Homo sapiens: one gene and its partner. The protein of the gene in region 1 interacts with the protein of each later gene in a biochemical or structural test. Each region holds a gene or a part of one and is shown on either strand. Other genes may lie near its edges.

Region 1 (3,943 bases):
AAATTTTAATTTTAATGTACTGGTAAAGATGGGGGGGTGTCTCACTATGTTGCCCAGACTGGTCTCGAATTCCTGGCCTCAAGTGATCCTGCCACCTTGGCCTCCAAAGTACTGAGATTATAGGTGTGAGCCATCATGCCCAACCCTTCCTGGTTAATTTTATTTTATTGAGATAGGATCTTGCTCTGTCACCCAGGTTGGAGTGCAGTGGCACAGTCATAGCTCTCTGCAGCCTCAACCTCCCAGGGTCAATTGATCCTCCCACCTCAGCCTCCTGAGTTTCTGGGACTACAGGTGTGTACCACCACATCTGGCTAATTTTTAAAAAAGTTTTCTGGGCTGGGCGTGGTGGCTCACGCCTGTAATCTCAGCACTTTGAGAGGCCAAGGCAGGCGGATCACCTGAGGCCAGGAGTTCAAGACCAGCTTGGCCAATATGGTGAAACTCCGTCTCTACAAAAATACAAAAATTAGCTGGGCATGATGGCTGGTGCCTGTAATGCAATCCCAGCTACTCGGGAGGCTGAGGCAGGAGAATCACTTGAAACCGGGAGGCAAAGGTTGCAGTGGGCCGAGATCAAGCCATTGCACTCCAGCCTGGGCAACATAGCAAGACTCTGTCTCAAAAAAATAAAAAAAAAATAAAATAAAAACAAAAAACAAAACAAAACCAACAACAGCCAGCAGCAACAACAAAAAAACTTTTCTAGGCCAGGCTCGGTGGCTCACGCCTGTAATCCCAACACTTTGGGAGGCCGAGGCGGGCAGATCACTTGAGGTCAGGAGTTTGAGACCAGCCTGGCCAACATAGGAAAACCCCGTCTCTACTGAAAAAAAAAAAAAAAATTAGCTGGGCGTGGTGGTGCACGCCTGTAATCCCAGCTACTTGGGAGGCTGAGGCAGAAGAATCACTTGAACCCAGGAGGCGGAGGTTGCAGTGAGCCGAGATCGCGCCACTGCACTCCAGCCTGGGTGACAGAGGGAGACTCCATCTCAAAACAAACAACAAACAAAAGATATATAAAAATTTTTCTAGAGATGGGTTTCACCGTGTTACCCAGGCTGGTCTCAAATTCCCAGGCTCAAGTGATCCTCCCACCTCGGCCTCCCAAAGTGCTGGAATTACAGGTGTGAGCCACCACACCTGACCCTTTCTTGTTTTTTAGATGAGGACAGCAAGAAGCCCCTGTAATTTGCCCAAAGCCACACAGCGGGGAAGTGGCAGAAGCTTCTGTACGTAGGAACCCAGTCACTTCGTAGCAGAGAGGCAGACTGCGCACAGATCTGCGTGGGGAAGGGAGTGCGCCAAGCCACAGCCTGATGGGCCGGCGTGCCTGGCAGGAGGCTCAGCAAGCACAGAGACTGGGCAGCTCCAGATGCAAGAAGCAGGAGGGAGGGGGACTCCGGGAGTGCGGTCCATTCATGTCTGAATGTAGCCAACGAGGGTTTCCTAAGCACCTACCATGTGCGGACGCTTGATACCAGGGCCTCGGCGGTGAGGGCACAGGCAGGAGCAAGCTCACCTCTGGGCAAGCAGGGGTTAAGGCCAGTTGCTCCCACGTGAGGGCACCTTGCGACAGAGCCACACACCCAGTCCTCCTGCTGGCCCGCCCCTCACCCTGGTCCGTCTCCCTGTGTCTGTGGTCGTCAGTTCCACTGGCAGGGGACCTGCCTCCCTGTTGCCACCACAAGAGAGGAAAAGTTGGTCAAACAGGTGGGGAGGCCAGAGCTACAAGCCTCGGGTTCCCTCCCCACCACCCGTGCCAGGCAGGCACCCGGGCCCTGGCACCTGCTGCCTGCCCAGAGGCCACCCAGCCTCCTAGACAGGTAAGTCCCCCGCCCCACTGTGCTTTTCCACCCAGTGTGCATTGTCTGAGCTGGCCTTCCCCAGCTGAGGGTCCTTAGACTCCCCCCCAACCTCCCCCACCACGAGCTGTCTCCCCGGCTCCTCGGAAAGCAGGAAACTGACACTCCTGCGTGGGCATCTGACATAGTTTCGTAGGGATTATCTGACCGGCAGTTACTGCACCTGGCGGCCTGCCCAGGACGCTGAGCTGGAAACTTAAAAGGGTCATTGTTACCTAGGTGGCGCAGGGACCGGGGAGGCGGCAAAGGGGCACAGGTTGGTCTCTGATCCCCCTAACTGAGGAGGGGAGGGGATATCAGTCCAGACGGAGCCTGGGTTTACCTCCTGCAGCCCGAGGCTAGGAGGTGACAGGTGGGAAAGGCTGCGACCTCACTCATCTCTGAGCCTCCTGGAACTTCTTAAAAGGCTCCCAAGTTTTGAAACAACTGCGTCTCCCGCCCCCCAACCCCTCACCCTGTTCTCACCGCTGGAACCTCCAGGAGCTTTGCAGGGAGGGATTGGGGTGGCCTTTCTTTTGCTAATTTTTTTTTTGAGACGGAGTTTTGCTCTTGTTGCCCAGGCTGGAGTGCAGTGGTGCGATCTTGGCTCACTGCAACCTCTGCCTCCACCTCTGCCTCCCGAGTAGCTGGGATTACAAGCGCCCACCACTATGCCCAGCTAATTTTTGTATTTTTAGTAGAGATGGGGTTTCACCATGTTGGCCAGGCTGGTCTCGAACTCCTGACCTCAGGTGATCCAACCCCCTCGGCCTCCCAAAGTGCTGGGATTACAGGCGCAAGCCACTGCGCCCAGACTTCTTTTTCTAATCTTTACTCCTCCGAGCAAAATCTCTGTGGGATGGGGCAGAGGGGAAGGAGGAAGGAGCGCTCAGAGCCAGAGAGGGGAGGGGTCGGCAGCAAAAGTGTTTTTCTGGGTCATTTGCTCCCAAATGGGAAGACCAAGGGAGCTTCCTCGTGAGCCAAGTGTCCGATTGCATCTCAAGTCTCTCTCCAGAACCAAGAGGGTCCCCCGGGGCCGAGGAGGCATGGATGATCGCATAGTGGGGGACAGAGCGGCCCGGCATTTGGGGTCACCTTGTGGCTGTGTGGCTGCAGAGCTCCCAGGGAGCAGGCTTGCTTGAGATTCGGGAGTCCGTGGGGGTGGGCGACATGGATCCCACCTTGCCTGGGTTTTGAGAGCAAACCCGTGGACTCAGTTAGATCTGGCTTCCACACCTCCCTTCTCTCCGGGCCTCTGTTTCCTGCTCTGTAAAATGGGGATATTGAGGGCCGGGCGCGGTGGCTCACGCCTGTAATCCCAGCACTTTGGGAGGTCGAGGCGAGTGGATCACAAGGTCAGGAGTTCGAGACCAGCCTGGCCAACATGGTGGAACCCTGTCTCTACTAAAAATACAAAAAATGAGCCGAATATGGTGGCAAGCACTTGTAATCCCAGCTACTCCGGAGGCTGAGGCAGGAGAATTGCTTGAACCCAGGAGGTGGAGGTTGCAGTGAGCCGAGATTGTGCCACTGCACTCCAGCCTGGACAACAGAGTGAGACTCTGTCTCAAAAAAAAAAAAAAAAAAAGGGGTGGGGGGATATGGAGTCACCAAGGCACAGGGCTGTTGAGTGCCGGATGTAATAAAGCGGGTAACAGATTCTCGGTCATTCTGGGGTCAAGACGAGCTATCCCGGTCCGAATCGGAGTCTGGTCTCATCAGCTTCCTGGTTTGTAGAGGATGAACCCTGGCTCAGAGAAGGACAGCCGCTTACCCCGGGCCGCACAGCCAAGTAGAAATGTCAGGCGGCCAAGAGTCAAGACGCAGAGGACAGGGAGCTGGTGGCGGGGGTGGTGCTCTGGAGGCTGGCCCTGCCCCCAGCTGATGCCTCAGGCTCAGCATCTCGAGAAAGTCCTGCCCCCTGGCTTGGTGCTTCCTCGTGGCCCTGAGTCCCGGGGAAAGTCCAGGGCAGGGAGTATGGGTACTTGTTCTTCCTCTTTAGGGCTGGCCAGGGGCCAGGGGAGCTGTGTTTGCTCAGGGTGGAACCTGACACCCTTTGGAATGGATTGAGGTTAGCGGAAGCCTAGGCTGGGGGGAGG
Region 2 (3,500 bases), on another chromosome or scaffold:
AAGTCTTTGGGACAGCCTGAGATAAATGTTTCAAGTTTTTCTAGCCAAGTGGCTTTTTATGGAGACTGTTTTGTTTTGTTTTACAGTATTAAAAATCTCCATGCCAAAATCATAGAGAAAGATGCTATGATTAAGGTCCTGCAGCAGCGATCTCGTAAAGATGCCGGGAAGACAGACTCCTCCAGCCTACGTCCTGCCCGCTCCGTTCCATCCATAGCAGCAGCTACTGGGACACACTCTCGCCAGACCTCTCTTACCAGCAGCCAGCTGGCTGAGGAAAAGAAGGAAGAGAAGACCTGGAAGGGGAGCATAGGTGAGCCCCACACCTCTGTCAGACCATGATTGGAAAAGCAAGACCAGACAGCTTCTCTGCCACTCATGGGACACGGAAATGTCCCTGAATAGTTCCTGGTCTCAGTTTACTCATCTGTGAAGTGGGGAGGGAAATCAGTCATACTTCAGTTATAGATATGTGGAAGCATTGTGTAAATTCTAAAGACTGCACCACTGGAGTAGCTCTTAGCCATGGGTTGACTCAGATCAGAATTATCTATTATTGTTGTAAGTTGAGGTGACCCTTATAACACAAAAGGCTCTCATAGAAAAGCCTAGAGACATCACGCCTCTGAACTTGGCTCTGCTCTAGACCAGTTGTATGACGGCTCCACCTCTGCTTCCACGTCTGGAAAGGGAGGACAGTGTCTGCCTGCTTTACCCCATGGGGAGTGGGAGGGAATAATGGGATAATGGGGGGAGGAGAGTGTCTGCCTGCTTTACCCCATGGGGCGTGGGAGGGAAGAATGGGATAATGGTGGGAGGAGAGTGTCTGCCTGCTTTACCCCATGGGGCGTGGGAGGGAAGAATGGGATAATGGGGGGAGGACAGTGTCTGCCTGCTTTACCCCATGGGGCGTGGGAGGGAAGAATGGGATAATGGGGAGAGCACATTGGAAGAAGTGCTCTCTCGCATAAGGTAGGGGTGGTAAGTTTTTGCTGTATTGTTGTTGCATGGGCAGAATTCCCTAAGTGTGGTCTTAGCCAGGAGTAGGTTTCTTGGGGGCAGGCAGGCTTGTTGGCTGGCTGGGCTAGCCAAGCTGGAGGGGAAGCAGGCAGCGTGCTCAGACACAGGTCCTCCACATCCTTCCCCTGCACTCTGGCCTCTCCAGGGGTCTGGCCCTTCTTTGATGCATTTCCCCACATCAGATCGTGTTTTTGTTTCTCTGTGCAGCTGAGAGCCAGTGGTCCTCAGCATAAGACCCCAAAGGAGACTGGCTGCTCTGGGCCAGAGGGGATAAGAGCTTCCATATGAACCCGACAGAGTTGGGGGGATCAAAGGCTCCCAACCAGAATCTGTGTTTGAAGTCCCTCCACTGGTGGCTTCAGCAGCCCCTGCCCCCAAAGGAAATGCACTTCAAAGAAGACGTGTGTGGACAGCAGCTGAGATCATCAAAGACTGTCCCAAGGACATTTAGCTCCCACCCCAGCTAGAGAGCTGGGAGGCAGTGCTGAGCCAGGCCTGGTCAAGGAGTTTGAAAATTTGCTCAGCTCTGGTAGCAACCTCCCTGGGAGTCCCCTGTTTGTGACGTGCAGCCAGGCAGGCATCTCTGGTGTCTGTGCCCGTATGCCCCAGGACCTGGCATGTCTAAACCAGGCCTGGGAGCCGGAGGACTTGTTTGAAGGAAGAGCTGCTGTGTTCCCTGCACTGATATTCCTCCTCATTGTTGTCATTGGTGTCCACGTGTCACAAACACAGGGACTCTCCAAGGGGCTGAGGCAGGTTCATGGGTGACTGCACAGTTCCCCACATGTTGTCACCATTGCTTGCCTGATAGGCTCTGGAAGGAGGTGGAGGTGACAGCATATACCTTCCCAATTGCCCAGGGTATCCCAGGAGCTATGGCTGGCTAGTGACTTATTCAGCCTGTCACTCCCTACGAGGACATCCTGCAGACTCTGGAGTTTCCACAGGCTGGGCGATGAAGTGGAAAGAACATAGGTTGGACTCCAAGTCAGGCACAGTTGGGTTTGAGTCCCATTTCTGCTGCTTCTTAGCTGTGAGATGTTAGTTTTTGTGAGCTTCCATTTCCTTCTCCGTAAGACAGGATAAGGCCTGTCTCGCAGGAATGACATGCAGTATGAAGTGAGATGATGTGGGAAGCGCAGGTGAAGGCCTTTGCTGCTCAGCGTGGTCTGTGGACCAGTGGCACCAGCACCATCTGGGAGCTTCTTAGAAATACAGAATCCCAGGCCCTGCCTGCTGGATCAGGTCTTCCTTTTAACGGTATAGCCAAGTCATTGTTATGCACATTGCATTTTGAAAAGCACTGCTCTCGACAAACTGAACTGCCCTGAGTTCTAAATGGGCACCTTAAAACAGCTCTGGCGAGGATACTTTATGAATTGCTGGCTATCTAACCAGATAAGAGAACAAATACTTGATTGCGCTTACCGCCTTTTCTATAGGCTAGCATTCTAGGGTGCTGGCACTTTCCCGCGTGTGTGCTGTATTTAAAAATAAAAAGTTATCCTCCCACCCAGCTTTCCAGGAAGGCTCTGAGGAAAATGGACACCTCTGCACACCACGCCTCCCATTTCCATAGCCAGCATCCCCTCTTCCCCACCCCAGCCTCACTACTCTTGAGGAAGGGGGTAAGGAGAGGGCTAAGTGGCCTTTCCTAGGAGGCTGGCTGGCTTTCTGCTTCTGGGAGGCTACAGTTCCACCGCAGAAATGTGCAGGTAGCATGTTTATCTTTGAATCCAAGCCTGTGGGGGACCATCATCCATTACAAGGAGTGGGGTGGAATTGTGAACTATTCAGAAGAGCAGCAAGCCAATGGGAACATGTCTAGGACCGGGGAAGCCTTGTAGTTTTTCTTAAGCACACTGCCACGCTTCAGGCCAGCCCTTCTGGGCCACGTTGGTAACAGCAAGCATGGTCTCTGGAAAGCCTTGTGGGAACCTCCCTACCCCTCCTGCTGGCAATTAGGCACTTCTCTGTTCGTCCATACCACCCTGTGAATAATTTATTTGTATCCTACAGTTTATATATTAAGTTATAATCAGTTTACTTGACAACTACTTCTCCACTCCAAAAAAAAAAAACAAAAAAAACACACAAAAAAAACCTACAATTTTTTAGGAAGGGGACTAGGTCTTCCATTTTTTATTCTCTCAGTGTTTGTTATTTTATCAGCCTTGTAATAAGTGTTTATTAAATGCTTGGGGAATGAATCAATGAATGAATGAAGCAATCATCAATCAACAAGGAACAGATCTGCAAGACTAGATTTAAAAAAAAAAAAAGGAAAAAAAGAATGTTGAAAAATCTGTTCTCTGCCCTCAGGATTGCTGCTGGGGAAGGAGCACCATGAGCATGCCTCTGCCCCACTGCTGCCACCCCCACCCACCTCAGCACTGTCCTCCATAGCCTCCACTACGGCAGCCAGCAGTGCCCACGCCAAGACAGGCAGCAAGGACAGCAGCACACAGACTGACAAGAGT

What was found. The genes of interacting proteins can lie anywhere in the genome.
Region 2: the proteins of TJP3 (region 1) and AMOTL1 interact in a test that uses a peptide from one of them, tested with the Homo sapiens proteins (one large-scale study listed by IntAct).

Annotation. Positions count from the first base shown.
Region 1 is NC_000019.10:3,706,736-3,710,678, forward strand, and holds the start of TJP3 (tight junction protein ZO-3), read left to right. Parts: upstream 1-1,648; 5' UTR 1,649-1,826; intron 1,827-3,943. UniProt on the Homo sapiens protein: TJP1, TJP2, and TJP3 are closely related scaffolding proteins that link tight junction (TJ) transmembrane proteins such as claudins, junctional adhesion molecules, and occludin to the actin cytoskeleton.
Region 2 is NC_000011.10:94,865,856-94,869,355, forward strand, and holds part of AMOTL1 (angiomotin-like protein 1), read left to right. Parts: intron 1-86; coding exon 87-313; intron 314-3,342; coding exon 3,343-3,500. UniProt on the Homo sapiens protein: Inhibits the Wnt/beta-catenin signaling pathway, probably by recruiting CTNNB1 to recycling endosomes and hence preventing its translocation to the nucleus.